Regions from separate parts of the Homo sapiens genome. Here regions 2, 3 and 4 are each reported to be linked to region 1. The links are microRNA targets in miRTarBase. Many come from high-throughput screens and were not tested one by one. Region 1 holds a microRNA gene; each other region holds the end of a gene's coding sequence.

Evidence for each region. The annotated mature microRNA hsa-miR-8071 reads CGGUGGACUGGAGUGGGUGG and lies in region 1 at 2,624-2,643, shown strand. An mRNA with a match to its seed (bases 2 to 7 or 8) in the 3' UTR can be bound and repressed. Matches are read on the target gene's strand: a 7mer-m8 pairs with bases 2 to 8, a 7mer-A1 pairs with bases 2 to 7 and ends in A, and an 8mer does both.
Region 2: miRTarBase lists LUZP1 as a target of hsa-miR-8071. Seed matches in the 3' UTR shown: 8mer at 5,481-5,488.
Region 3: the mRNA of ANXA6 is a reported target of hsa-miR-8071. Seed matches in the 3' UTR shown: 7mer-m8 at 1,450-1,456.
Region 4: miRTarBase lists PODXL as a target of hsa-miR-8071. Seed matches in the 3' UTR shown: 7mer-A1 at 5,571-5,577.

The regions. Positions count from the first base shown.
Region 1 is chr14:105,618,528-105,625,644 of GRCh38, forward strand. MIR8071-1 (microRNA 8071-1) reads left to right here and starts at 2,589; the gene lies at 2,589-2,653. It also overlaps IGH and IGHG4.
Region 2 is chr1:23,083,159-23,090,275 of GRCh38, forward strand. It overlaps LUZP1 (leucine zipper protein 1), which reads right to left. Exons shown (of 4, transcript NM_001395462.2): 4 at 872-5,895. The coding sequence ends at 5,737. KDM1A (lysine demethylase 1A) reads left to right here. Exons shown (of 21, transcript NM_001009999.3): 21 at 21-531. The coding sequence ends at 206. Among named protein-coding and RNA genes, the nearest start is that of MIR3115, 42 kb to the left of the region's middle.
Region 3 is chr5:151,095,555-151,102,671 of GRCh38, reverse strand. It overlaps ANXA6 (annexin A6), which reads left to right. Exons shown (of 26, transcript NM_001155.5): 26 at 1,165-1,966. The coding sequence ends at 1,224. Among named protein-coding and RNA genes, the nearest start is that of TNIP1, 18 kb to the right of the region's middle. RefSeq lists enhancers at 3,917-3,966, 4,157-4,266.
Region 4 is chr7:131,497,809-131,504,925 of GRCh38, forward strand. It overlaps PODXL (podocalyxin like), which reads right to left. Exons shown (of 9, transcript NM_001018111.3): 9 at 2,463-6,700. The coding sequence ends at 6,503. Among named protein-coding and RNA genes, the nearest start is that of PODXL, 55 kb to the right of the region's middle.

The DNA.
Region 1 (7,117 bases):
TAGAGCCGGTGATGCAGCAGCTGCCCGCCCTGCACCCCAGGTGCTGTCTCCCTCACCCCCCGCGGGGCTGCAGCAGCGTGTCCTGAGAGTTAAAGGGCTGGGCTTCAGCACCCAGTTCAGGCCAGGCCCCCTGGAGCCCACCCTCCAGTGGCGAGCCTTCCCACGGCATGGCAGGGCCTGGAGTCTGGGGATTTAGTCCCCAACTCCGTGTTTGGTGCAGCTCCAGCTGCTCGATGCCACACAAACGAATCCAACCACTCCTCCTTCCTGGGTGAGATGGTCTCTCTCCTGCCACAGGCAACTCCGACGGCATTTTCCAGCCACCGCAGCCACCGCAGCCACTGCAGTAACAAGACCCTGTCCTTGACTGAGTTCCAGCCAGGCTCCTCGGAGCCTCTCCACTCGGCCTCAACCTTGGCTTGTAAAGACTTGAGCAGACACTAACAGTTTCTAACAGCTTCTGGCCGTACCCCTAGGCCGACCCCTGCCCCGTCAACACCTGCCTGAGAAAGCTCCGTGCACCAGAACTCACCGTTTGGACCAACCCCGACCTCCCTTTCTCAGGGTGTCTGCTGAGAGGGCCGCAACCACACGTCCTTCTATCCGTTCCCGATGTCTGTGCATTTCCTGTGACCCAGGAGGGTCTTTCTCAAGACTTGAGAGCCGCTCCCTGAAGTGTCCCCTTTGTGAAGGATGGGGCCTGTGTCTCCAGGCTCTGGGAGGACAGAATCCTGACCTCAACAGTGGCCGGCACGGACACAGCAGGTCCCATCCCGGGGACGCTGACCAGCGCTGGGCAACTTTTCCCTTCCCCGACGACTGAGCCCCGAGCACCCACCCTGCTCCCCCTACCACCTCCCTTTACAAGGCTGTGGCCTCTGCACAGATGAAGGTGAGTCCAGGTCATGCCGGACTCTTTCTTCTGTTGCAATAGTTATTTCTGTTGAAAATCCGTCCTTGCTACATGATCTAGTGCCCAGCTTTATCTTTGAAAATGTCTCTCTCCACCTTTGCCTCTCCTGCCTTGTCCTCGTTCCTGGCACCCACCATGTGTCCTATGGGCTGAATTTTACCATAGAATGAATCACACACCAGGTTTCACCTGTGCCTGATGAGGGTGACAGTTTGATGAGATTTTAGGCTTAGAATTGATGCTGAAAGGACTAAGACTTGGGGGATGCTGAGACAGATGAATGTATTTTGCATGTGAGAAGAACATGAAATTTGGGGGGCCATAGCATGGACTGTTATGAGTTAAATTGTGGCCCCTACAAATTCATATATTCAAGTCTTAATCCCTGGCCTCACAATGTGACTATTTGGAGATGGGGTCTTTACAGAGGTCATTAAGTTCATATGGGGTCACTAATCTAATGCGATGTGTGTTCTTATAAGAAGAGAAGCTTAGGACACGGGCACACAGAGGGATGGCCATGTGAGGACCAGGGAGGAGACGGTGTCTACAAGCCAAGGAGAGAGGGCTTGAGAGAAACCAGCCCTGCCTGCATCCTGATCTCAGATTCCTGGTCTCTAGGCCTGGGAGGATCCATGTCTGCCGTGGGAGCTGCCCCGCTGTGGTCCTGAGCTGACGCACACAGATCTGACACCCACCTCTCGCTTCGGACCATGGTTGGTTCTGGAAGGCCCTCCCTGTGGCTCTGCCTGGCCAGCCTGAGCCAGCTCCCAGCCTCGACCCAGCTTTCCCTGGAGGCCCTGTCCCCCGCAGAGTGACCAGGGCAGGCAGCACCGTGCCCAGCAGGAGGAGAAACTGCATCCATGTAGAAAAGAGGAGAAGCCCCGGGGGTCCATGTAGCGACAGGGGCCAGGGAGGGCCGCTCGGGCAATGCGTGTGGCTGCAGGAGGCGGGGGGCGAGTGCAGGGAGCCCCCGAGGTGCAGCTCGACCAGCCTCCTCCTGACCGTGCTTCCCACCGGGGGCAGGAGGCGCGTGGACACAGGAAGGCGGCTCCCATCACGAAGTACAAGACTTAAAAAGGATATTTTATTGTCATCACAAAAGAAACATCAAAGACAATTAATGAGCTTTAGAAAATTTAAAAGAAGAAGAAAAGCCAAAGCTGAAATGGTGACACCTCCTTCGAGTGAGCCCGGGAGTCCTCCCTGACGGCCGAGGCAGGCGCTGGCCGCAGTCCCGCTCGAGCCTCCCTTCCTGTCTGTGGATTCTGCGTGACAGTCACGGAACGGTGTGATGGGGGCAGCAGAGCGTGGGGGCCTCTGTCCAGCACTCGTGGCCAGCAGCCCCGCTTTCGCAAGAACACGGGCACCCTCTTTGTCGTCTTGCCTCTCCACCTGGTGCCCCCAGAGTGGCTGCTTGTTCCTGCTGCACGTGACCCGGGACTGGACGCCAGCCTCTGTGATGAGTTCTGGCTGTGTCCACGCTCCTGGCTCTCCCGGTGTCCCTCCACCTCTCTCCCCGATGCTCCTGGGCCTCCTCTGTCCTCAGGCCCCACCAAGGCTGAGTCTTGCCCGCCTGGGACCTGGTCACCAGCCTTCTGTGGGAGGCCTGTCTGGGCAGATGCCCAGCCCTTCCTTGGGCTATCCTCACCCTTGCACTGTGGGGCTCCTGCAGCGGCCACATGGCCCAGGCTCTTCTCCGAGTGATCTCGGTGGACTGGAGTGGGTGGTAGGTGGCAGTGTCCTGGGCCTGGCCCTTTCTCTCCCCAGTGCGGACTCTGGGGCTGGCTGTCCCTGCGGGTCCAGTTCCACCCGAGAATCCAGCAGTGTGGGCAGGCAGCCAAGGGGTGGTGCTGGCACCGAGACTGTTCCCAGGAGCCAGAGAGCAGCGTTCTTTGCTTGAAATCAGAACAACCTCATTCCTCATGTCAGGAGTTCACGGGAGTGCCCGGAATGGAGGCTGGCTGGCTGCGGGCTGGGAGGAAGGCCGTCTGAGTGAGCCTTCGCAGCTCTCGGAAGCCTCCCCAACAGGGCCTGATGGTGCTGTGGCTTCCCTACCTTGGCGACTGATGCTCCCACTCACCATCTGGAAACCATGCCTGTGTTCAGGAGGCTGGCGTGGACGGGGTTGGCTCCAGGGCGAGGTCCTGCCTGAGTGGGGGCCTGGGATGCCGGTTACCTCCTTTTGTGTGAGCACCTGGTGGTCCAGAGGGCAGGGACGTCCTGCTGAGGGGACACCTGGCCCTCAGCGCCCTGCATGCACCAAGCAGCGGAGGTCTGGGGTAGACCTGCTATGCACAGGGTCTGGAAGGGGGGCGTTTCAGGGCTCAGAGGGCGACTGCGAAGCCAGAGAGCCATGGGGTTGAGGGCGGTGAGGTCAGGGGGCAGGTGTGGCCTGGGTGGTGGCTGAGCATGGCCCACGGCTCGTGTGTGGGGTCTGGGCGGCCCTGGACACCCCGCAGAGGGTGGCCCTAGGCCCCCTGCCTTATCATGTTCCTGTAGTCGGGGACGATGGTCTGCTTCAGGTCCACCACTGAGGAGAAGATCCACTTCACCTGTAGGCAAGGCACAGCACAGGGGTGAGCGAGGCCACAGCCCTGCCCCTGAGCCCCACCCACCCCTCAGGCCACCCAGGCCACAGCCCTGCTCCCAAGGCCCATCTGCCTTTCAGGCCACCCAGGTACCGGGGCTCTACACTGCCTGCCCCCAGGCCTGGACATGGAGAGCAGAGCCATGGTAGTGACAGCATGTGGATAACACAGAAGACAACGTCAGGGACAGGTGGGGACAGCGTGGGGGACAGGGAGAGGTGGGGAGATTGGGGGACAGGTGGGGACAGCATGGGGGACAGTGTCAGGGACAGGTAGGGACAGCGTGGGTGACAGGGAGAGGTGGGGAGAGTGGGGGACAGGTGCGGACAGCATGGGGGTCAGTGTCAGGGACAGGTAGGGACAGCGTGGGGGACAGGGAAAGCTGGGGAAAGTGGGGGACAGCATGGGGGACAGTGTCAGGGACAGGTAGGGACAGCGTGGGGGACGGGGACAGGTGCGGACAGCATGGGGGACAGTGTCAGAGACAGGGACAGTGTGGGGGGTGAGTGGGGGACAGGTGGGGACAGCATGGGGGAGTGTCAGGGACAGGTGGGGACAGTGTTGGGGAAGGTGGGGACTGTGGGGTACAGTGTTGGGGAAGGTGGGGACAGCATGGGGGACAGTATCAGGAATGGGGGACCGCATGTGGGACAGCGTCAGGGACAGGCGGAGACTGGGGGACAGTGTGGGGGAAAGGTGGGACAGCATGGCGGACAGTGTTGGGGACAGGCTGGGGGAGAGCATTGGGGACAGGTACAGCGTGGGGGACAGAATCAGGGAGAGGTGGGGAGACCGTGGGGCACAGCATCAAGGACAGGTGGGGACAGTGTGGGGGACAGTGTCAGGATGGGGGATAGCATGGGGGACAGTGTCGGACATGTGGAGACAGCCTGGGGGACACTGTTGGACAGGTGTGTACAGCATGGGGGACAGTGTCAGGGACAGTTTGTGGAGAGAGTGGGGGACAGTGTCAGGGACAGTGTGTGACAGCATGGGGGACAATGTCAAGGACAGCTGGGGACAACGTGCGGCCGACCTTGAAGAAGGTGACGGTGGCACTGTAGCACACGCTTAGCAGGAAGAGTGTGATGAAGATGGTGATGGTCGTCCACAGCCCGTCCAGCTCCCCGTCCTGCGCCTCCGCACAGCTCTCCTCCAGTTGCAGCTCTGGACAGGAAGGGGGTGGTCAGTGCTGTGTCCCCCTGGGCTTGGGCCTCTGGGGGTGATTCCCTCTGTGGCGGGGCCCAGGATGTAGGGCCCGGCCGGGATGGGCCAACAATGTCCTGAGGTCAGCTCCCGGAAGCTGTCCACCCTGGGCACCAGCTTTGGCCCTGGGGCTCAGCCAGACACCCGGCCCTAGATAGCGACCTGGCCCTCAGCAGGACCCACTCCCCGTCTCCCGTGTCCCTCCCTGAGCCCCAGAGGGCAGGAGGATGGTGAAACCCACCCCTCATGTGACCCCAGCTGCAGGGAAGGGCTGTATTGGGACGTGGGCCAGTGCCAGGGACGCGACGTGGCGTGTGTTCCCCTGTGTGTGTGGCGGCTGCAGGGGCACCTTGTGAGAGGAGGGCTGGGTTTGTCTGAGCTGGTCAGCATGTGGAGAAGCTGCCGAGCGGCTCGTGGGCCTTGAGGTGCCGCGTGGGGCTCGTGGGGGCCTGTGTCTGAGGAGTGTTCACGTGTGCGAGGACCTTGCTCTGGTCTGGGTGCTGTGCGGTTCGCCCGGGTGAGGCTCCGTGTGTGAGGCGTGCACGTGTGTGTGTGGTGGCCGTGTGGCCGGCCAACCTCAGTGCGGGGTTTGTTGAACGGGTCTGGGCTGAGTGTGTGTGTGGGCATCTGGACCAGTCCCTCCACAGGGCCCGAGAGTGCATGTCCCCGGAGTCGGTTGTGTCCCCATGTGGGTTCGAGGCTGGGCAGGGCTGCCAGGGGTTAGTGCCGTGGGGGTAGATGGGTGAGGGAGGGCCTGTCCCTACGCACATGGACTAGGCATGCCCCCGAGTGGGCATGCGGGTCGGAGGACAGGGCGCTCACAGAACAGGACAGTCTCCTACAGAGGCAGGGGCTGTGTGTCTGTCCCCAGGGGCTCCTAGGGCTTCTCGTGGCCCAGCCCAGGGCAGGTGCTGCTGGAGGGAGGGCCACGCTGGCAAATCCCCCACCCTGCCGAGGGCAGCCCCTGGCTGAGCCCCACCCTAGGCGGCCCAGGCACACCTGCACAGCCTGGGCCAGTGTGGGGACAGTGGGACCCGCTCTGCCTCCCTCATGCCACTCAGGCCTCAGACTCGGCCTGACCCGTGGAAAGAACCATCACAGTCTCGCAGGGGCCCAGGGCAGCGCTGGGTGCTTTATTTCCATGCTGGGCGCCCGGGAAGTATGTACACGGGGTACGTGCCAAGCATCCTCGCGCGACCCCGAGAGCCCGGGGAGCGGGGGCTTGCCGGCCCTGGCACTCATTTACCCAGAGACAGGGAGAGGCTCTTCTGTGTGTAGTGGTTGTGCAGAGCCTCATGCATCACGGAGCATGAGAAGACATTCCCCTCCTGCCACCTGCTCTTGTCCACGGTGAGCCTGCTGTAGAGGAAGAAGGAGCCGTCGGAGTCCAGCACGGGAGGCGTGGTCTTGTAGTTGTTCTCCGGCTGCCCATTGCTCTCCCACTCCACGGCGATGTCGCTGGGGTAGAAGCCTTTGACCAGGCAGGTCAGGCTGACCTGGTTCTTGGTCATCTCCTCCTGGGATGGGGGCAGGGTGTACACCTGTGGCTCTCGGGGCTGCCCTGTAGGGACAGAGGTTGGCACAGCGGTCACTCCCAGGGCAGAGGGTGGGCCGAGCTGACCTCTGTCCATGTGGCCCTCGCACCCCGTGGGTCCCACCTTTGGCTTTGGAGATGGTTTTCTCGATGGAGGACGGGAGGCCTTTGTTGGAGACCTTGCACTTGTACTCCTTGCCGTTCAGCCAGTCCTGGTGCAGGACGGTGAGGACGCTGACCACACGGTACGTGCTGTTGAACTGCTCCTCCCGCGGCTTTGTCTTGGCATTATGCACCTCCACGCCATCCACGTACCAGTTGAACTGGACCTCGGGGTCTTCCTGGCTCACGTCCACCACCACGCACGTGACCTCAGGGGTCCGGGAGATCATGAGAGTGTCCTTGGGTTTTGGGGGGAACAGGAAGACTGATGGTCCCCCCAGGAACTCAGGTGCTGAGGAAGAGATGGAGGTGGATGCGTCAGCACCCGGCTGGGGCCTGTCCCTGGATGCAGGCTACTCTAGGGCACCTGTCCCGCCTTGAGCTGGAGGGCGAGGCCTGGGTTGGCTTACCTGGGCATGATGGGCATGGGGGACCATATTTGGACTCTGCAGAGAGAAGATTGGGAGTTACTCAGATCTGGGAGGAGAGAAGGTGTCTGAGCTGAGGGAGTGGAGAGTTTGGCCTTTGGGGTGGGCTTAGGTCAGGGGCAGGGTCCTCCCGGATATGGCTCTTGGCAGGTCTGAGCGCAGCACCTGCCCCTGTATGCGCAGGGCCTGGGGTAGGGGCATCCAGCCTGTGGCTGCCCGGAGCCTGGTGGAAAAATCCAGAAGACCCTCTCCCTGAGCATGAGTGGGGTGGTCAGAGGCCTCC
Region 2 (7,117 bases), not on the chromosome of region 1:
CTCTTTTTCCCCTAAAATAGCCGATTCCACGACTCTTCTTTGCGGGAGAACATACGATCCGTAACTACCCAGCCACAGTGCATGGTGCTCTGCTGAGTGGGCTGCGAGAAGCGGGAAGAATTGCAGACCAGTTTTTGGGGGCCATGTATACGCTGCCTCGCCAGGCCACACCAGGTGTTCCTGCACAGCAGTCCCCAAGCATGTGAGACAGATGCATTCTAAGGGAAGAGGCCCATGTGCCTGTTTCTGCCATGTAAGGAAGGCTCTTCTAGCAATACTAGATCCCACTGAGAAAATCCACCCTGGCATCTGGGCTCCTGATCAGCTGATGGAGCTCCTGATTTGACAAAGGAGCTTGCCTCCTTTGAATGACCTAGAGCACAGGGAGGAACTTGTCCATTAGTTTGGAATTGTGTTCTTCGTAAAGACTGAGGCAAGCAAGTGCTGTGAAATAACATCATCTTAGTCCCTTGGTGTGTGGGGTTTTTGTTTTTTTTTTATATTTTGAGAATAAAACTTCATATAAAATTGGCCCTCTCTTTTGTTCCTTTGAGTTGGAGTTACATACAAGATGGGGGCATTACTCCTTTGGAAATGCCAAGTTTATCCTATGGCAATAGTAATACATGTTTTCTCCATGTTTAAATAAGGAAGAAGATGTTCATATAAAAGAGAAAAATGGTTTGATCAGGTCAGAAGATAAGGTAGGGGGGCCGGTCCTGTAGAAGCAGTGGACTTCCTGGTCAGTCGGACTAGGCTTCCTCACTTGGGTGGGGGTGGAGTGTGGTGGTGTGCCAAGAACATGGTTATTAGGAAACTTTGGATGCACTTTCAAGATAGAACACAAAAGAGCTGAAACAAAGTCTGAGCCTTTGGGAGACCAGTCTGCCTTTATTCCTGATTCCCTCCATGGGTATGTGCTAAAACTTCCCAATTCTACTAAAGGTGGTGGTGTACATTTTGGGAAGCGCACTACATAGGATCAAGGGCTTAGGTAACAGCTGGTTTAACAGATTGCCACAAACTTAGTGGCTCTTAAAAAAACAGAAATCTATTCGAAAGTTCTGGAAGCTTAAAGTCTAAAATGGGTACACAGGGCTGCATTCATTACAGAGGCTCTCAGAGCAGGGAGGATCAGTTCATTTCCTTGCTCTTTTCAGCTTCTAGGTGTGGGAAGGCTCGTGGCTCCTTCCTCCATCCTCAGAGCACATAACTCCAGTTTCTGCTTCCATCATCACATTGCCTTCTCCTGTAGTCAAATCTTTTGTCTCTCTCTTAAAAGGATACTACCTGTGATTACATTTAAGGCCCACCTGGATCATCTAGGATGTTCTGCCTCATCCCAGCATCCTTATCTGCAAAGTCCCTTTTGCCATATAAGATGATAAAAACATGTTACATGCTGGTTCCTTCCCAGGGGCTCCTGACTGACTGACAGATAGATGATAAACACTGTTACTGCAAATCCAAGTAATGTCCCTTAAATGTGGTTTTATTCTTTCTTACTGTGAGTTAAGGGACATCATTATATATATTGGTGATCTGACTGGAAGATGAAAACGGAGAAGGCTTTTCCCCCCCTAGTCTTAGAATTCGTGGCAGTAATGGAAAGAATCTGCACACCAGGATCAGGGCAGTTAATGTTTCCAGTCCTTGCAGTATCAGTAATTGGTTAGGTAAAATACCCAATTTTAAGTATTACACAATGAAATAAATAAATATACTAGAGCTGCGCCAACGCATAGAAGACAGATGATACACAGGGATGACATTGACAAAACTGGCATCACAGACTCGCACAGAGTATACGGAAACGAGGGAGCTTTATTGGTTACATATTGTACTGCAGAGCCAACAGAGAGCATTCGCGCCAGAGGATACATGCAGACAGGCAGCTCCAATGATACACATGCACCCAAGGAGCCCTGAGCCACTGCTTTGCCCTGGTTTCCAGCGACAGGTTCTGGCCTCCTTGGTCCCATGCTTGGAGCTGCTGCACCTAGACTCTAAGGGGCAGGGGTGAGAGAGACCAGAGCACCTGCCTGAGCAAGTAGGTGTGGACCAACAGGCTGCCCCCAACAAAGGGGCCTATAATGCAATAACAGTTTATTTGAGGGCTACTTTCTTAGCCCTCTCAATCTTTAAAATACAAAAAAATAGACTTTATTCTCTTAAAAATACATTCCATTCAGTATATGTTCTGAGCTGGGAAGCAGCAGGAAAATAGGGCCCCTTTCCTATGATCCTATGGTTGTGAGGCTTTGAGGAGAACCCTGCTCCCCACTCGGGGTATTCAAAAAATAATCCCTAAAAGCAGCTCTTTCCAAAGCAATCTTGTCAGAGAAATAACAAAACCTCATAACAAGGTAGCCAGGGACCCAGCCTCTGGGTCCCCATTCCTTTATTGGGAAGTGGTAGCACTTGGCACTGACCCACTAAATATAAAGAACTAAAACTGCCCCAGGACGACAAGTCCAAGAACACTATAGTGCCCCCTGCATCCCGAACACTCCACTGACGGGGGTTATTTATGTGCAAGCTTGCCTACAGCTGAGGGTGGGGTGGCATCCTTGGCCCCACTGCAGATCCCTTTAACCCACACTGTGACTCTTTCTCATTGCCACCCAAAAGCAAAAAACAGCCACAGCTTCTTTATCCACCTGCAGCTTTCTCTGGTTTAGTATCAGAGTGGCAAAAAAAGCAGCAGCACGTGGAAGAGATCAGCTGCTGGTACTAAGCCAGCTTCACTTCCTCCAACCAAGCAGCTCTATTGCCAGGTCCCCCAACTCACTAGGAACCCTCCAACAACCATACACCTGCCAGTAAAATTTAAGAGCCAAGCTGCGGAAGAAAACTGTCATAAAAGTGGGTTTGTTGACCGGGGGCAGTGGGACTATTTGGCTTGATTAAACAACTATTCAACTACCAGGTCTCCCCTCTACTTGGAGGCTTCCTCCAGGACCCCTGATGATGAGGCCTGGGTCCAAACAGTCACACCTCAGTTGCTTTTCAGAAACATGCCTCCCAACTTTGGGATTTGAGAGCCAGCCTTGCCAGCCATTTGAAGCCCAGAGAAACAGCCTCCAGCCTTTACTTGCTATTACAATGTTATTTTCTGCAATGCTGAGGACACTTAAAAATAAAATCTATCTAGAAAGTGTGCAGATTAAAGAAACAAAATATCCTGAAATAACTGTTACAAGCAAATCCTATTGCACTCAGATTTCAAGATGGCAGCCCCAGCAAAAGGGCATCACAGCTGTCCCTCTTCAACAGGACATTTTGAGTAGCAGCAGATGTTGGTGCTGCTGAAATGTGGAAAGATCCAGACTTTGGCACCAGGAGCTATAGCACCAGAATCCAGGGCTCCAACACTCAAAGACAAGAATTATTGGCGAGATCTTTTTAGGCATGGCTTGGCGCCCTTCTGTTTCCATCAGCAGAGAAGAGCCACAGACTTAGTTTCCTAATACCTTTAGTTGACCACCACAGAGGTTGATTTTCTTTGAACTCTCAAGGTTGCCAACCAGTGAAGGAGAATGGCAGGGAGGCTGCAAGTGAAGGATGGCAGCCTTGAGTGAGCTAGTTTCTGGCCAGTAAGCCAGGAGAAGCAGCAGTAAGAGATCTTGGAAATAGCATCTTGAGCATCAGAGGTGGGGATGTGGACAGGAAAGGCAGGCCACATGACAATGCCTTTAGATTGGCAAAACTCTGGGAAGCAGAAGTATGAGCAATAGATTCCTGTCCCTGAAAGTAAGGTAGGTGCTCCCCAAGCCTCCTCACTGCCAAATCTGATACAGACAAGGTCAGGATGAACACTGGTTCCCATGCTGAGTGAAGGCAGAGAAGACAAATTCCTCTGGAGGAAGTCTTGAGTCTTCCTCTTGCCAGGAAATTCATAGGAGATGCACAGGAACAGGAGATACACAGACTTGGGTACTTTCCATAATACCTAGACTCCTAGAACGCCAGGAGATACTGTGTGGCACTGGGCAAGGCTGATGCCACAAAGAGCCTCAGAGACCATCCCATCTAATCCCTTCACACTTTGCAGATTGGGAAACAGGCCCACGGAGCTTCTCTGAGCTCATCCCCATGAGATTAAAACATACAGAAACTAAAAAACAAGGCCCAGAAAAACAATTGAGGGCAGGAGGGAAGAACCCACACGGATGATACCTTCCACAAGCAAAAATCATCCCATACTATTATAGATGGTGAAAACAGGAGAACCTTAGAATACCAGATTTGGTGCCCTTAGAGATCATCCATTTCAAAGAACTCATTTTACAGACAGGGAAACTGAGGCTCCAAGAAGACAATGACTCACCCAAGGTCACACAGCAAGGAAGTAAAGCCATGGGGAAAAAAATCCAGCTTACCAGACTGGTAGTTTAATGTTCTCTCATTCTGAGGGCAATAGTGTCTACTTCATAAAGGTAGCCTTTGAAAGAGGATCCCTTCTTTGAATTGACAGAATGCTAAAGAAAAAGCACTGCCAAGAATATACAATTCTTTTCAACTTCCCCATGTGACTGGTATAAGGAACCTAACCAATTTATTTACGTGGCTTTCTGAAAAGTTTGCTGCATTTTGAACTATATAAAGCTGAGGCCCTCAATGCGTATGTACGTATCACCTTTCCTCCAGCGAAGTCATCATGATAGTCGACTTGCAGAAATCCGGGGCCCACTTCTGTAGGAATGCATCAGCTTGGTAAAGTGCGATGCCTCCTCCATGGGGGATGGAGAAGGAGGAACAGGAGGGAGTAGTCTCACAGTCCATGCCTCTCATGGAGCTATTGCTTGTGGAGTGACTAAAGGGGTCTGCTTTCCCTCTTGCTGGGCACTTCCTAGAAGGCAGAGGATGCTGGGTCAGGCCCAGCTTAGCCTAGGGATTTTCCCAAGGTGGAAACAATGAAGTCAGCTTGAAGTCTCCAGCCACTGGAGAGAAAGCAGGCGATGCCAGCAGCATTACTGGTGCTCAGGAAAGGAGATGCATGAGGCTTGCACCTCCAGGTGCCTTTGGAAGGTGAGCAGAGAGAGCTGGGGTTGGGGAGGGATGATGTCATTCCAATGGGTATCCGCATGAGTATCTGCATGCTCTGCTTCCAGGAGACTGGTAAGCCAGGAGCCAGGTCAAACTTCAACCTAAAGGGTAGTCTCATAATCCTTTAGAGGCAGCACAGACCCCTTTCTGCTTTAAGTCTGAAGAAAAGAACTCCAAGGGGAAAGAAATGAAAGCCCCCTAGATAGAGCTGATGGCTGGTAAATCTTATGGGGTACTTGAGCCCATTGGGCAAATGAGGAGTGAAGTGGATATAGTGAGGAGACTGAGAAACCAGAACATTAACCACACAGACAGAGGCTGCCCTAGGATCCAGAAACAACCCACCAAGGAGCCGAGAAGAATTTTTGACTCCTGCTGTGTGCTGGGGACTTTATCTTCCCTTGTTTGGGGGCCAGAATGGTCCAACTACTTGGTGGACAGGGACAAGGAGAGAGAGAGGACTCGTGCATTGGGGAAGGTTGGGCCTGGGTGACTGTCCAGCTTGTAGTCTCTGATTCCCTCTGGCCAAATGGCAAAAATTACCTGAGCCACAGCCCGGCTCTACCACAGTTTTCCAGCCAAGGCTTGTGTCTTGCCTGGTTAACTGGCCTTGGATCCTTCGTGGGGCAGGACGGTGGAAGAGCTGAGAAGCAGGAGCAGAGGGCAGACAACAGACACCCAGCGGGCTCAGTTCTCCTCAGCACAGGGCCTGGTTGGCCGTAATCGTTCCTCGGCCCGTACTCGCCCAGACTCTGGCAGCCCCTGCTTCCCAGGCAGTTCAGACGGATCCAGGGAGTTGTGCAGTTGCCTGTAGACACTGAGTGTACAGTCTTCCCCTTCTTCCTCCTGTGCCAATAAATAACAAAAGTGAGCTGTGGAGGTCAGTAAAGTGAGGACCGAGACACCCTCACCTGCTACCATAGTGGGTCCTTTCCAACCCAGCAGAGGCAGATATAGCCCAGACAGGCCATAAGTTAACTGCAAAGATATGCTTTTGCCTGAGTATGGGCCAATATGTAAATTCCTTGGAAATCGGCAGACTGGGAACTCCAAGCTGCTGGGAACAATCAGGGTAGGCTAGGAGGAGGCTCACAACTCAACAGGAGCCTTACAGAGGATAGAGCCTGGAATGGGGGCATGGGACTAGCACCCCTGAGGAGGGGCCAGCAGTCTCCGAGTTCTGCACATGCATGCAGGCCGCATGATTCTGGGGATGAGGTCCACATCCTTGATGGGGAGCTGAAGAGAGGTCCGGACAGCTCTCTTCCTCCTTCCCACATACAAACTACCAAAAAGCTCACATTCCCGTCTCTCATCCTTTATCTCTCCTCTTAAATGTCCAAAGCTTCAGGGGCCCAAATAGCTGTCTTTCTCCCTACGCCTAGAATTCTACCTTTTTTTTTGAGACGAAGTCTCGCACTGTCTCCCGGGCTGGAGTGCAGTGGCGCAGTCTCAGCTCACTGCAACCTCCGTCTCCTGGGTTCAAGCGATTCTCCTGCCTCAGCCTCCCAAGTAGCTGGGATTACAAGCACGCACCACCACACCTGGCTTTTTTTTTTTTTCTTTTTTTGAGACGTCATTTCACTCTTGTTGCCCAGGCTGGAGTACAATGGTGCGATCTCGGCTCACTGCAACCTCCGCCTCCTGGGTTCAAGTGATTCTCCTGCCTCAGCCTCCTGAGTAGCTGCGATTACAGGCATGTGCCACCACACCCAGCTAATTTTGTATTTTTAGTAGAGACGGGGTTTCACTATATTGTCCAGGCTGGTCTTGAACTCCTGACCTTGTGATCCGCCTGCCTTGGCCTCCCAAAGTGCTGGGATTACAGGTGTGAGCCACCACGCCTGGCCAGAATTCTACCTTTTTAATATTCTCCTTGGTTCTCCCAAGCAAATGCAGATCAAAGAATAACATAGGCATGAGTAAGAAAGGTTAGAGTAGAAAGAGCATTGGATTTAGAGACAGGAATCTTGGATTCAAGTCTTCGCTCTTCCAGTAATTCTGCTGGGTGACCTTAGGTAAGATATTTTGTGTTTCTGACCCTTAGCTTCTACATCTGAAAAATGGG
Region 3 (7,117 bases), not on the chromosome of region 1:
AGTGCAGCAGTGCCATCTCATCTCACTGCAACGTCCACCTCCTGGGTTTAAGCAATTCTCCTGCCTCAGCCTCCCGAGTAGCTGGGACTGCAGGCATGCATCACTATGCCTGGCTAATTTTTGTATTTTTAGTACAGACAGGGTTTCACTGTGTTGGCCAGGCTGGTTGCTAGCTCCTGACCTCAAGTGATCCACCTGCCTTGGCCTCCCAAAGTGCTGGGATTACAGGTGTGAGCCACCACACCTGGCTGCGTCTGACTTTTTTGACATATGGAGCTTATATTTTTGCTCTTTGAGATCAGCCAAGATCTTAAAGTCTGATGCTTGGTTCTACTTGGCTAACGAGACTATGGGCATCTCAGAGGCAGTCTCTTACAGACTTAGTAGGAATGTAAGTAAATTGTTGGCACATTTTGATACTATATTATGTTTTAAAATCATACATCAAAAAATACAAGGACAAACAAAATCCCGAAAACCATGTCTCATAACAATGATAGGAGTCCCTCAGAAGGGAGATCCATACCATACCATGGGTCAGGAAGTTTGGCCTCCCCAGTCTGAACGTATACCAGACCACTGTGATGTGTGGTGAGCGTGATGGTGTTTGTACCCATTCCCAGCAATGGCTTGGCAGTTAGCACTCAATGTTGTTTGTTCAAATAAGAAATCACCTAACACGATATGCCAAGGGCCATGGGGGAGGGTATCAGCAGAGTGCCAGGGGAACCAAGGGAGGCCAGAGTTCACTGTGCCTCCTGACGCAAGAGAGTGGCCAGAGTGCTTCTCAGAGGAGAGGGCCCTGCTGGCAAATGGGATTGGGGGTGCACAGGGGCATGTTGGACAGGGGAGTGACAGGTGGAGAGAGGACTGAGATGCTCCTGGGGGAAAGGAACAGGTGAAGCTGCAGAGCTCTGCACAGGTCAGATCCCAAAGGGCCTTGAAGCCAGGCCGGGAGCTTGCATATCTTCCTGGGGATAAACAAAAGGGACGTGGTCACATTTATGTGTCTGGGAGATCCCAGTAGCCTACATGTGGCATGGGATCCTATGTTGGTCATGGAGAGAAGCCGAGGGAGATGTCCAGACAGATGGGCAGCCGGGAGGAGGGGGCATTGAGACTGGAAGGACTGTTTTCACTCACTCTGCTCTCTGCCTCTGCCAGGGTGACACCTCCGGAGACTTCCTGAAGGCCTTGCTGGCTCTCTGTGGTGGTGAGGACTAGGGCCACAGCTTTGGCGGGCACTTCTGCCAAGAAATGGTTATCAGCACCAGCCGCCATGGCCAAGCCTGATTGTTCCAGCTCCAGAGACTAAGGAAGGGGCAGGGGTGGGGGGAGGGGTTGGGTTGGGCTCTTATCTTCAGTGGAGCTTAGGAAACGCTCCCACTCCCACGGGCCATCGAGGGCCCAGCACGGCTGAGCGGCTGAAAAACCGTAGCCATAGATCCTGTCCACCTCCACTCCCCTCTGACCCTCAGGCTTTCCCAGCTTCCTCCCCTTGCTACAGCCTCTGCCCTGGTTTGGGCTATGTCAGATCCAAAAACATCCTGAACCTCTGTCTGTAAAATGAGTAGTGTCTGTACTTTGAATGAGGGGGTTGGTGGCAGGGGCCAGTTGAATGTGCTGGGCGGGGTGGTGGGAAGGATAGTAAATGTGCTGGGGCAAACTGACAAATCTTCCCATCCATTTCACCACCCATCTCCATCCAGGCCGCGCTAGAGTACTGGACCAGGAATTTGGATGCCTGGGTTCAAATCTGCATCTGCCATGCACTTGTTTCTGACCTTAGGCCAGCCCCTTTCCCTCCCTGAGTCTCTATTTTCTTATCTACAATGAGACAGTTGGACAAAAAAATCTTGGCTTCCCTTCTAACATTAACTTCCTAAAGTATGCCTCCGATTCATTCCCTTGACACTTTTTATTTCTAAGGAAGAAATAAAAAGAGATACACAAACACATAAACACATTTCCAGTGAGGGCCTCTGTCTTCTACCTAGAGCCTGCAGCCTGGATTTTCCTCATTAGAGCTTGAGGTTGTAAAGTCTGTCCAGGAGCGAGTTACGTCTTTAAATTCTTGCAAGGTGTTTCCCGGGAAGCGCACAGGAGAATCTGAGTTTGCAGCAAGCCTGGGAAGGCTGGCCCAGCCCTGCTCCGGGCCTCAGGTTCCCCCTCATCCCCTCTCGCTGTCTGGACATTTCTGTATGCTCTTCATCCATTTCAACCAAGCCCAAACTTCCTCTTTTGAACTATGCAAGGGTGCCCGATGTGATCTTGATCTGGAGAGGTGCATGGAAAGTTTCCTTCATGCAGGTCACTGATAAGCAAGTAGGCGCAACTGCAGTTCCTCTGCCTTCCCTCCCCCGCTGCCCTACTTCTGGTCTGTGGCTTTGGTCTAAGATTGTCCAGTGACCATGGCATGGGGCTGGCTGCTGGCCAAAGGGCACTTCTCCCTACCCTGGCTGACCAGACTAGTTTATTGCAGGTTAGCGCGTGTTTGTTTTCTTTTCTTTCTTTTCTTTTTCTTCTTTTTTTTTTTTTTTGAGATGGACTTTCGCTCTTGTTGCCCAGGCTGGAGTGCAATGGCATGAATTTGGCTCACTGCCACCTCTGCCTCCCGGGTTCAAGCGATTCTCCTGCCTCAGCTTCCCGAGTAGCTGGGATTACAGACATGTGCTACCACACCTGGCTAATTTTGTATTTTTAATAGAGATGGAGTTTCTCCATGTTGGTCAGGCTGGTCTCGAACTCCTGATCTCAGGTGATCCACCCGCCTTGGCCTCCCAAAGTGCTGGGATTACAGGCGTGAGCCACCGTGCGCGGCGCATGTGTTTGTTTTCATAGCTGTGAAGACAGCAACAGGCAGGTGAGAGAGTCTGGTCTCGTCCCTCCCTCACTTGTGACCTCAGACCAGCCATTGCCCTCACTGGGCCTCAGTTACTCCAACTTTATAGTGGGGGGTTGGATCCAACAATTTTGAAGAGCTCTCTCTTAATCTCTGACATAATGAGTCTGAAACAAAGAAAAGTTACCTTACCGTGTCTTTACTTCCTTTCTTCTGGGCTGTGAACTCAAGTGCCTTGAGGGCCAGCTAAGAGCTTTTTGGGATATTTGTCTAACTTAATTGAACTGTTACTGAAAGATAAATTAACAAAATGGTTCAGAGTTTTGGATTAAGACCTTTGTAACTAACTGACCGTCAGCACAGGAGCTTCGGTTTCCTTCTCTGTAAAACAGGGCTCCTCATTCCAATTCCACCTATCCTGTAGCCTTGTGGGAATAAAAGGAGGCACCACGTGGAGGTGCTTGGCAGGGTGCGTGCCTGGCTCGGAGTCAGTCTCACTACCTGCCCCGAACCAGGCTCAGTTGTAGGGGCTGAAAGGTGGAGCCCATGATGCTTTATGGCTTTGATTTCATGAAGTCCGTCAGCTGCAGATCACAAAGGCATTTGAACCCAAAAAGAAAAGTGCCTTAAAATATATACTGAGGGAAATGGGCTTGGGGCAGAAAGGAAAGAAGAGTGGAATCAGGGAATAGAAGTGAGGAGAGCCCATGGAGCTGAGGGGAACACAGAAGAGGAGGCCTAGAAACCAGGAATGAGGACAGCTAAAATCGGGCAGTAGCTGTCTGATGCCTCCCTAATGCCTCAGCATGCATTTTCCACATAATTTTCAGTTAAGGTAGTTGCATTCTGGTACTGGTCGGTAGCAGGAAGGAAACCCTAAGAGTTTGTGAGGTGAGGTAGACAAGATGAGAAGTGACAGTTTGTCTCCAATTAAGGAGGACTTTAAATGTCAGGATTTTCTCTGATAACCTAGGGGAAGCCTTTGGAGTTCTTGAGTGGGGAAGGTGTGCGTCTAGCTATGCTCTGAGGACAAATGTAGGAAGGCAGGGTGCCATTCGGGAGCCTTTTGCAACGGTCCTACTAAGAGCTCGGTGCCAGCTGAACAAACCACATTTTTTTCTTGGAGTTTTAGCAGAGGAGGAGAGTAGCCACTGTTCTGAACCAGAGCACCCCATTCATGCATGCATGCAGTTTACACTTAATGAGTGGCTCCTATGTTCCATGCCACGTGCTAGGTGCAAAACATACAAACCAATGTGGTTCTGGTGCTTAAGGAGCTTCCACTGAGTGTCCCTCCTGCTCAGCTCTCTCCAAAATGACACTGGAGATTGCTTCTGTGGCCAAAGTTTAATCGGGAGAAGCGATGGGGGCTAATTTAAAACTAAAAGGAAAGAGAAAGCAGAAGCCCAAACCGCTGCTGTCTCAAAGTGGGAGAAAGGGAGGCTGGCTGTGATGTTCTAAGGGTAGAAGGGGCCCTCAGAAATTCTCACCTCCCTCCCTCACTTGCAGATGAAACAACTGTCACTTCCACAGAGAGGAAGCAACTGGCCCAGGGTACATAGCAAGCTAGCAGCAGACAGAACTGGAATTGCCATCCCGGCCAGGGCCGGTGCTTTTAGAAGCACCCTGTGTTTTCTCCTTTTGTCGTCACCTGTGGAGGTGGGCTTCAATACTCTCTAGCTCCTCACTGCTCCCCCTCCTGCCTTGAGCCTTGCATTTTCCCTTTAGGGCAAACTGTTACAAGCTCTGAACTGGGATGGGCCAATCTTGGTCTTTGGGGCCACTAGGAAATACCCGAAGGAAGTTGCCCATTGGGAGGGGGGGTGCCCTTTTAACCTGAGCAGAGAGCAGCTATTTAGGAATTGCCACTCAACCTCCTGCCCGTGGCGGTGGTGTGGGAACCGCTGGCTGTTTAAAGTTTCCCTATGGCCAGGTGCCGTGGCCCGTGCCTGTAACCCCAGCACTTTGGGAGGCCAAAGTGGGCAGATCGCTTGAGCCCAGTTCAAGACCAGCCTGTGTGTAGCAAAACCCCGTCTCTACAAAAAATAGGAAAAAAAAATGCTGGAGGTAGTGGTGTATGCCTGCAGTCTCGAGAGGCTGAGGTGGGAGGATCGCTTGAGCCCAGGTTGCGGAGGTTGCAGTGAGCCATGATCGTGACATTGCACTCCAGCCTGGACTACCAAGGGACACTGTGTCTCAAAAAAAAAAAAGAAATCCCCCTATATTCATGGTGCCCCAGCACAGCTGCAAGCAATAAGTCGCCACCAGAATAATCCCACTTGAGAAGCTTTGCCTCCATGGCCGTTACTTCCTTTGCAGTATTATAGGGGTGATCACCCTCTTTTTACCAATGAGGAAACTTGGGCTCCAAGTGGTGAAACATACTGCCTGAAGACATAGACAGTACATCATGGATTGACTCACTGGAAATGGTCTTAGAGATGGCCCCAACCAACCCTCTCGTTTCACAGGTTTGGTAACTGAGGCCCAGAGACAGGATTGTGACCATTGTATTAGTAAGTGCCAGATCTGAGGCTAGAACGCAGCTGTCCTGATTCCAGGCTCTGCTCTCTCTGCTGACACTTCCTCCTTTACCTATTGATGAGGAAGCCAGACTGAGCTGAGCATGGGAGGGAGAAGGGTCGGGTTGCCCAACCTGAATTTCGGAACCCAGAAGCGGTAAAACAGCGCTCTAACATGCCTCTTCATTCCCCACCAGAACCTGGGTTTCCTACAGATTTCCCCACTTTAGGGTTGGAGTGAGGCAAGTGGGAAATTGTAGTTACATAACTGAGCCCTCTGCTCAGTGGTTAAGTCTGTGGAGGCAGGCAGGCCTGGGTTCAAATCCCATCCACCACTATTAGTAGAAGTAAATAAGTAACTTGACCTGTCTGTACTGGCAATGCATGTTTATTTCTGAGCACACTGTCTAGAACATACGAAGGACTCAGTATATCAGCTCTTTATTATCAATAATAGGCAGGATTCTATTTTAGAGAAGAGTAATCAGGGTCAGAGGGGGGAGTCTGATGCTCTACACTATGCCTGCTACACAGAGAGCTAAGTGGGGAAAGATTATTAGAAAAATCTCAACCAGACCAGGCTCAGTGGCTACACCTATAATCCCAGCACTTTGGGAGGCCGAGGTGGGTGGATCACCTGAGGTCAAGAGTTCAAGACCCGCCTGGCCAACATGGTGAAACCCCATCTCTACTAAAAATACAAAAAAAAAATTTAGCCGAGTTGCGGTGGCGGGCACCTGTAATCACAGCTACTTGGGATGCCGAGGCAGGAGAATCACTTGAACCCAGGAGGCGGTGGTTACGGTGAGCCAAGATCACACCACTGCACTGCAGCCTGATTGACAAGAGCAAAACTGTCTTAAAACAAAAAAAGAAAGAAAAAGAAAAATCTCAACCAAGCAAGGGACACTGAGTGCAGAAGCGATGAATTAACCACAGGGAGGACTAACAAAGGCTCCTTGGAGAACGGGACACTTGAGAGCACCTCAGCAGATGGTTAGAGAAGCTCTTACATTAGAAACTACTGAAGGAGGGAGGGGTGTCCAGGCAGAGGCAATGGCTGAAGCAAAGGCGCAGAGCTGGGAAAGGAGAGGTGTGTGGGAGTGCTGGGGCCCGTCACCCGCTGTGCGAGGACGCCCTCTGGGAAGGTCACTGAGTCCAGGCTGAAGAGTATGGACTTTATCCTCCAGGCACTGGCTAGCCCCTGAATGTGCTAGGGAGGGAGATTATATGATTAGAGATGTCCTTTAGAAAAGATATCCCCAGGGACCAGCATGGAGGAGACAGGACCAGCAGCTGGGGTCCCTAGGTGTCGGGGGGATGAGGACACAAGCCAGCACAGAGGATGCAGAGATGGAGAAAAGAGAAGGACACTGGGGAGCGAGAAAACAGGGAAAAGGGCCCTAAAGTGCCATGGGGAGTGAGCGGGGAGGAAGCAGATGTGAAGCCAAGTTCCATTCCCTAAGAACTCAGAGAAGGACATGAGGACAGAGGTCCCTGATGTAGGCTGTCCCACTGCCCTCCTCTCAGCTAGGTAAGGACTGACAAAACCCTAAACAAGAGCTGTCTGGGAATGTCCCCCCACCACACAAACAGGCCCAGCTGTTAAAATTTCCAGAACATGCATTTCCTTCTGTGGGATGGCCCCACCCCTTCCTCCCAACTACCACCATCTGCCTGTTGTGCTGCCAGCTGCAGGCAGAACCCCTCCCTGGCCGTCTTGAAGGCCATGGACCTTGACCTGGGAGGGCCT
Region 4 (7,117 bases), not on the chromosome of region 1:
CCCTGTAAATGAAGGCAACATTGGTTTATCACTAACTGTTCAGATTCTGAAGGTATTAATATGACTGGAAAGACCATCTGAGGCTTGTACAGTTCTGGCGTAAGTCAAAATCCTGGTTGATGACATTCCTTCTTTAGCACCACGTATGCTACATCTTCCTTTGCCTTTTACATTCTTAGAGAAAAGGAAGAGGGGACTGGAGACTTGGGCTTTCTGGGGCATAGGGCAGTTGGGGCAGCAGAGGATGATGCCACCATCCTTACTCTACAGCTTCACTATTGTCTTACGGGGACTTTTTTCCTGTGGGCTTTCACCCAGCAAAAGCAGCAGCCGTCAATCATATCCTTGCCAGAGAGATTCTTAATATAGGAGAAACTGTAATAAGGAGAAACTACGTAGAAGTAGCCTGCCTAGCACTACGTTCGTAAGTTTTAATGGTTGGCAAACCCCGAGAGGTGGTTAGGACCCTTGGCGATGTACATAGCAGCATTGTACAGCTGCCCTCTAAACTTGGGACATAGAATGGAGAGTCCAGGAGGAATTGGGAATCCTGGCTTTCATTTCCTGATGACCAATGACTTCTGCATAATATTGCACAACTTCTCTGCCTCATTTCTTCTGTGAAGTAAATACTGGCAGCAGATCTTGTTGGCTAGGATCCTATTGATTTTCTTTTTAGGACAGGGTCTCACTGTGTCATGCAGGCTGGAGTGTAGTGGTGTGATCATAGCTTACTGCAGCCGCCAACTCCTGGGCTCAAGTGATCCTGCCTTAGCATCCTGAGTAGCTAGGACTACAGGCATGTGCCAGCAAAACTGGCTAATTTAAAAAAAAAAAATGTAAAGATGGGATCTGGCTGTGTTGCCCAGGCTGGCCTCGAATTCCTGAGCTCAAGCTATCCTCCCACTTTGACCTCCTAAAGTGCTGGGATTAAAGGCATAAGCCACCATTCCCCACCAAGGTCTTTGAAAGCAATAGATATCTCAGTGTTTATCACTAGTGTTAATTATGTAGCCAGTTCTATTCTTTATTTACTTTTTTCCCTTGTGGTACAGAAGAAATCTGTGATTTGGGAGGGAGCTTATAGGGAAGGTTCTGAGTGACAAATGAGCATAACACATTTAAATTGACAACTGAGCGTGTGTCTTGGTTGGCAGGCAGGGATCAGGGTGAATGACCTACTCAGAAAGAGAATGGGATCTTAGGTCTAACTTGTGGCCCACAATAAGCTGTGGGTCACTCTTAGAACAGTGCACCTCGACCATGGCCAGGGTCCTGTGTGAGTTCCTTGTACTTGGACTCCTTTCTGTATCCTTGGCACCCTCTCGAAGCTAACCTCAAAATTACCCGGGCCCAACTCTAGACCTCTCTTCAGGGTTTAACTGCTTTTCACAACAACTTTCATGGAAGGAAAATCATGTTGTAACAGTAGTTGCATTCTAGAAATGTATTTTGCTGTTGTTGGAACTCTGGCATTAACGTGATACTGAGAAAAGAGTGTAGGACTAAAGAGCAAAAAGAGAATCAAGGCCCATGCTGCCATTTAAATGGTTGTGTGATCAATCTCAAAGAGAATACTTAACTCCTGCATCTAATTTCCCTAGTGGGGACAATTCCTATAAGATAGGTTTGTAAACCTATAGGTTTCCTATAAAATGGTTTGTAAATGGTAAGATGCTAGGCAAGTAGACAAGATTGTTGTCTAGCAACTAAGATTATGGACCAGTTCTACCTGACAGTTTCCCTTCTGCAAGTTTGGAATGATGAAGTTTACCCCTTCCGATGAAGAAGCATGCAGCTGTGGATAATACCACACTAGGAGATGAAGAAAGAATCATCTCCAGTGATTCCTTCCTTAAACCGCTATCTATCTTCACTGCAGACCTGGAGGAGGGATAGGCAGAAGCCTCTTGTGGCAGTAAACAGATCCTTTTATGGCAGAAACAGGGCCAGAACAGAGCTTTGTTTTTACATATATATATATATATATATATATATATATATATATACATACACACACACACACACACACACACACACACATATATATGTATATATATAGTCTCTTTGCCAGTGTTTTCATACCTGATCAATGTTCAGCAGCCCTCTTGGGGATTTCTGATAGTGGTGATTCACAATGTATCTGAGGCAGAAGTAGAGGGAAGGAAGACAGCGAAACATACAACGTCATCTTAGGGGAAAGTGAGGTTCTTTAGAGTCACTAGGATAGCTTGAGTAACATAAAGACTCATAACCACCTTTAGGATCCCCCTTTTTTTTTCTTCCGGTTTCTCTCCTTCTCTTGCCTAATTTCTTTGCCTGCAGAGTTGGACAAGTGTAACTCAGCACGGAGGCTCCTGTGCTACGGGTGTGAGCCGACATTCTCAGGCACTTTGGCGATGAGCCTCATACACAAGTGAAGGCTTTAAGAAGTCCGAGGAAACTACTAGAGCTTGAACCAGTTTACACAAAAACACTTTAATTGACAGTATACAATTTTCCAAAATATATTTTTGTAAGAAAATGCAATAATTATTAACTATAGTTTTTACAAACAAGTTTCTCAGTAAATTCCAGTGTACTTCAGACCCCTGTCCACTAAGACATATATGATCCCCCAGTTCCTGGGCAAACTGTTGAACATTCACTGCAGACAAAAAGACCAACACCAAAGAGTCATCTGTGTCCTCCATGCTGTGTTTGCAGCAGACCTGAGGGATCAGCTAGTGACCGTGACAAAAGCTATGCTACAGTTTTACTCTTGCCCTCTCTGCCTCCCCCATCATGTTTCCTTGGTCCCTCAGTCCTGTTGGAGTAAGTTCCATATATAAAAGCTCATCCAAAACTTTGTTTCTTGGCAGAAAGAAAGAATTGTTCACTTACATCTTAAACCTAAATGATTCAGAGAAAGTGTAGAAGACCAGTTCTTATGTTTGTGTTCATGCCCTCCCTAGCCTTGCTAGGGTAACAACTGGGAAAGGAATTCTGTCCTTTGTGTCATTCTGGCACCTTCGAGTAGCAATTCTTAATTTACCGATTATTCCTTCTGAGGCGCACAGTCTGTGGATCCAGGTTTTAATCTTGTTTCTGTCCTGAACCATGTGATTTTGAGGAAGTCACTTCATCTTTGTGAGCTTCAGATTATCTTTTTCTCTAGAAAAAGATTGGACTAGATCTTGAAATACCTTTCTCCATGACTACAGGGTTGCCTGCCAACCAGAGCATATTGACTCCAACCTTTACTGAAATGGAGCTGTGACTTTGCTGGGGAGGGGGCAGGGTTGCATTTTAAAATTAAAAAAACAAAACAAAACACCTGATCTACAAGACAAATACTTTATCATAAGTTTGTCTTGTTATATTTCATTTTTTGTTTAAAAAAAAAAATCAAGCAAAAACTTGTCATTTCCAGTAAGACATTTACATTCCTGTCCAGAGAAAAAACTTGGCCATCACTCAGCTAACATAATGCTTTTTCAAAGTATGTTCACTTAAAGCAGTGCAGGGTAGGTTAACATGGTCACTGTATTTACATTATCAAAAAAATATGTGTATATGTATCAGTTTGAACTTGTTCTTCAAAGTTTCTCCAGTATATTGTCAAAAAAGATAAAGCTCAAGAAGTGGTTTAAATAAACTTTCTGCTAGCTTTCCTTATCAAGCGGGAAAAAAATCTGGTGCCTAGACTAGATTAAACCCGTATTCTGTCTTACAACGCAAAGAATATTCTGTACCTCCTTCATAAGCTTTGCTGCCTGTCTCCCCACTCTCATGACAGTAGGCTTCCTAGTCATCATACTTGTGGTTTCTGGCCTCCTGTGCAGCTTGGGGAAACCACAGTTTACCACTGAAAGAGCTGATGATAAACTGTCTTTGCTACAACCTGTTTAAGTCATGCTGAGCTTCTAGTGTTCCTCTTACCTCTTCCCAGACCCAATGCTCTCTGAATTATCAGAGAGCATTTAGAACCCAGTAAAGGTGGCAGAAGATGATGACCTTTATAGATGCATGGCTGTTTGGCCTGTTGACATAGGTGTCCTGGTGGCAAGAGCAAGGCAAGGTGTCAGATTCTGAAGCTGTCCTAAGCCTAGACTAACACAGTTTGGACGAATATAAAGCAGTAACCTCTGAATCAGCCCAGAGCCTCTCCGGGTTCTCCTTGGACAGAGCGATGGAGAGTCAGGAGAGTCAGGACCGACCTGGCCAGGCACTCCTGCTCTCTAGTCCTTGCCAGTCATCATCTGTCTCCAAGAGGCCATAGGGTTGCAGCCTTTGATTGATTTGCAGAGGCCTATTTGCTGTCTCCGTCAAAAGCCCTGGCTGGTGAAGTGTGACCCAGGATCAGCAAAGGAGGAATAATCCAGTCTGGCCTCTCCCACGGGACCACAACAGAAAACCTACTGGGTGGAGAGAACCCAGCGCTGGGCAAGAAGGAAGCAAACACCTCACTCAAGCCTAACAAGATTTCCTGTTTTCCCCCAAACAGGCACTGTTCTCCATCCTGCCCACCTCCAAACACTAGAGCATCGGGGCAGATGTTTTTGGAACTTGTTAGCCTCGCATCCCTCTAACTCCTGGGAAACTCGCTGGGGCCCTATGTGAACCCCTGGCCTTCCTTTTCCCCTAGGATATCAGATGGCTACAGACTGTGAGGAAGGAATTAGGCAGATGGTGCAGGACAGATCTTCCCCAGCCCCTCCCCCTACCCTTTTAAAAAGTAAGCCATCCCGAGTGGATAGCCTATTTCATCAGAGCTACTACAGCCGGAGCCTGACTCTTAAGACCCTGGAGGTGTGGCGTTTCACCCGAAAAATGGCAATTTCATTCCCCTAAGCAGTTCTGCCCATTTTCCTACTTGATCCCAGGGAATTTACGCCCAGAACGATGGAGACCATGGCGAAAGTTCAACATTCCACACAGGATTCCCCCTTCTCAATCAGATGAAACCTCACCATGCCCACTGCTTAGGAGCCTTCTACATGGCAGCTAACTGCCGAGCCCATAAAAGTCCTATATTGGGGAATAGACATAGCTTTGTGTTCCCCTGAGATGCCACCAGAAACTGCAAGAGAACCGCAGCAGCCCCACTAGGCTCACAGAGAAGAGGAACAGCAAGGCCTAGCTCCAGGCCAGGACAGTGGGACGTTCCCACAACAGTCTGTCCCCCAGGCTGCCCTTCATGCACCCAGCATGCACTGCGCTTTCCAGGCCCTCTTTTCCTGTGGCACAGGAGAATCAGAGTGAGTGAGATGAGCTAACTGGACGTCTGCCAACTGTCTGAGCTTTTGGCCTTTGGCAGTGGAGGGCTGGGTTAGAAAACAACTATAACAAAACTCTCAGCAACTTGAAATGTCCCTGAGTTTCCTATGATATACAGGGGAAAGCCTGTCCTTCCTGGCTGCTTTAATGGATTGTCTCTGAAGACACATCGCTGATGGGGGGCCCCGGGAAGGCCTCTCCTGCAGCCACTGCTCTTTCATACTGGGTCTCAGGGAATCACTCCCATCAGCTGAGCAGTGAACAACAAAAGGAACACGCTGCTCTCACTAGCTACAGCAGATTTTAGTCCCTGGTGGAAATGGAAGCCCAAAGAAGATCGTGGGTGGCCTCTGCAAGGAGTGCCAGGGGCAATGGGCCAGTGTTCCTGCTGACCCCTCATCAGCTGCCCTGAGATACCAGCCTGGACTCGAGTGTCCCCTTCTCTCCTCACCTGCACGCAGGTCCCCTAAGCAGACCTGGTTCACGCACGGAGACCTGTGTGGGTTAAGCCCCCATCTCACGAAGCAAATGTGAGAAAATCCGAATCCAGAACAAGGGGTTCAAGGTTATGAATAACCTGTGCTAATCCCAGAGGCCCCAGGACAGAGTAAGTGGGAACAAACACTGAGTGTAGGGAGGGGTAAGAACATAGAGGGTGGGAAGATGGGTACACGAGGCTGGGGTAGGAGAAGGAAAACTTGGGAGCTGGACTTTCAGGTCGTCAGATCCCACCGAGCCAGGATGTAGCCCTGCCCTCCTTTCCAGCCCAGCCACCTGCTGGAGTTTCACCCCTGCCCGGGACTGCTCTGGACGGAAGGCACATGTGAACACAGCAGTGTGGCATGGTGCAAATGGAATCTTTGTTCTCATCCTGGCTCTGTCACCAAGTGGCTCTGACCTTGGGCAAGTCACTTACCCTCTTCAGGTCTCGGCAATCTCACTGCAGAATGAAGGGATTCCACTAGTTCATCTATAAAGTCCCTTACGTGGCTTTTTCTTGATCTCCCTCATCATCCAGCAGCACTGAGCTCAGGCACTAGTGGGTTATTTTACAAGAGGAATCTGGACAGAATGTGATTTGTTCAGGTTGAAAAGGGAAAAATTAAGGCCCTGGGGGGATTGGGAGGGGACACCCCTCGGAGTTCACTCTCCCTCCCCAGTCTTTCCCTTCCCCATCCAAACGGCACTTGGGGTGGTTGGTCTGGAGCTCTGTGGTGCTGCTGGAGGCCACCGGCAGACCGGACTAGAGGTGTGTGTCTTCCTCCTCATCCAGGTCGTCCTTGGTCAGGTTGTCCAGAGGGACGATCCAGCTGTCCCCCAGCTCCCCGTTGAGGCTGACCACCTTCTTCTCCTGCATCTCAGAAGAGGTCTCCATCACTTCCAGTGTTGGGTTGTCATGGTAACCATTCTCCACTGTCTGCAGCTCCTCTGTTAGCCGCTGCTAGAGTGGGGAAGGTGACCGGTGAGAAGGGGGTTTCAGAGGGCTCTGAGCTTAATACAGCGCATGTACGTACCCCTCCCACTCAGGAGCCCCACTGTAGCTAAAGCAGGCCCTCATTGCTCGCCTGTGGGGCTGGCTGCTCCTGGTGGTCATTCTGGCTCTCAGCCTGCCCGGAACTAGTTGGGAACAAAGACTTGCCCCTCACCCTCACCCTGGTGGCAGAACCTGTGAAGTTAGTGGAGATGGACTTTGTTCTCCAGAGTCCTCTAAGCTCTCTCCTCCCCTTCATCCCTTCCCCCAAAACCTCCTCTCCAGGCACCTACCTCACCTATCATAATGAATGGGAAAAACACTATTAAAAAATGACCTCTCTCGGGCTGGGTGACTGAGCCCTCAAGCCTGGGCAGGATGGGTACG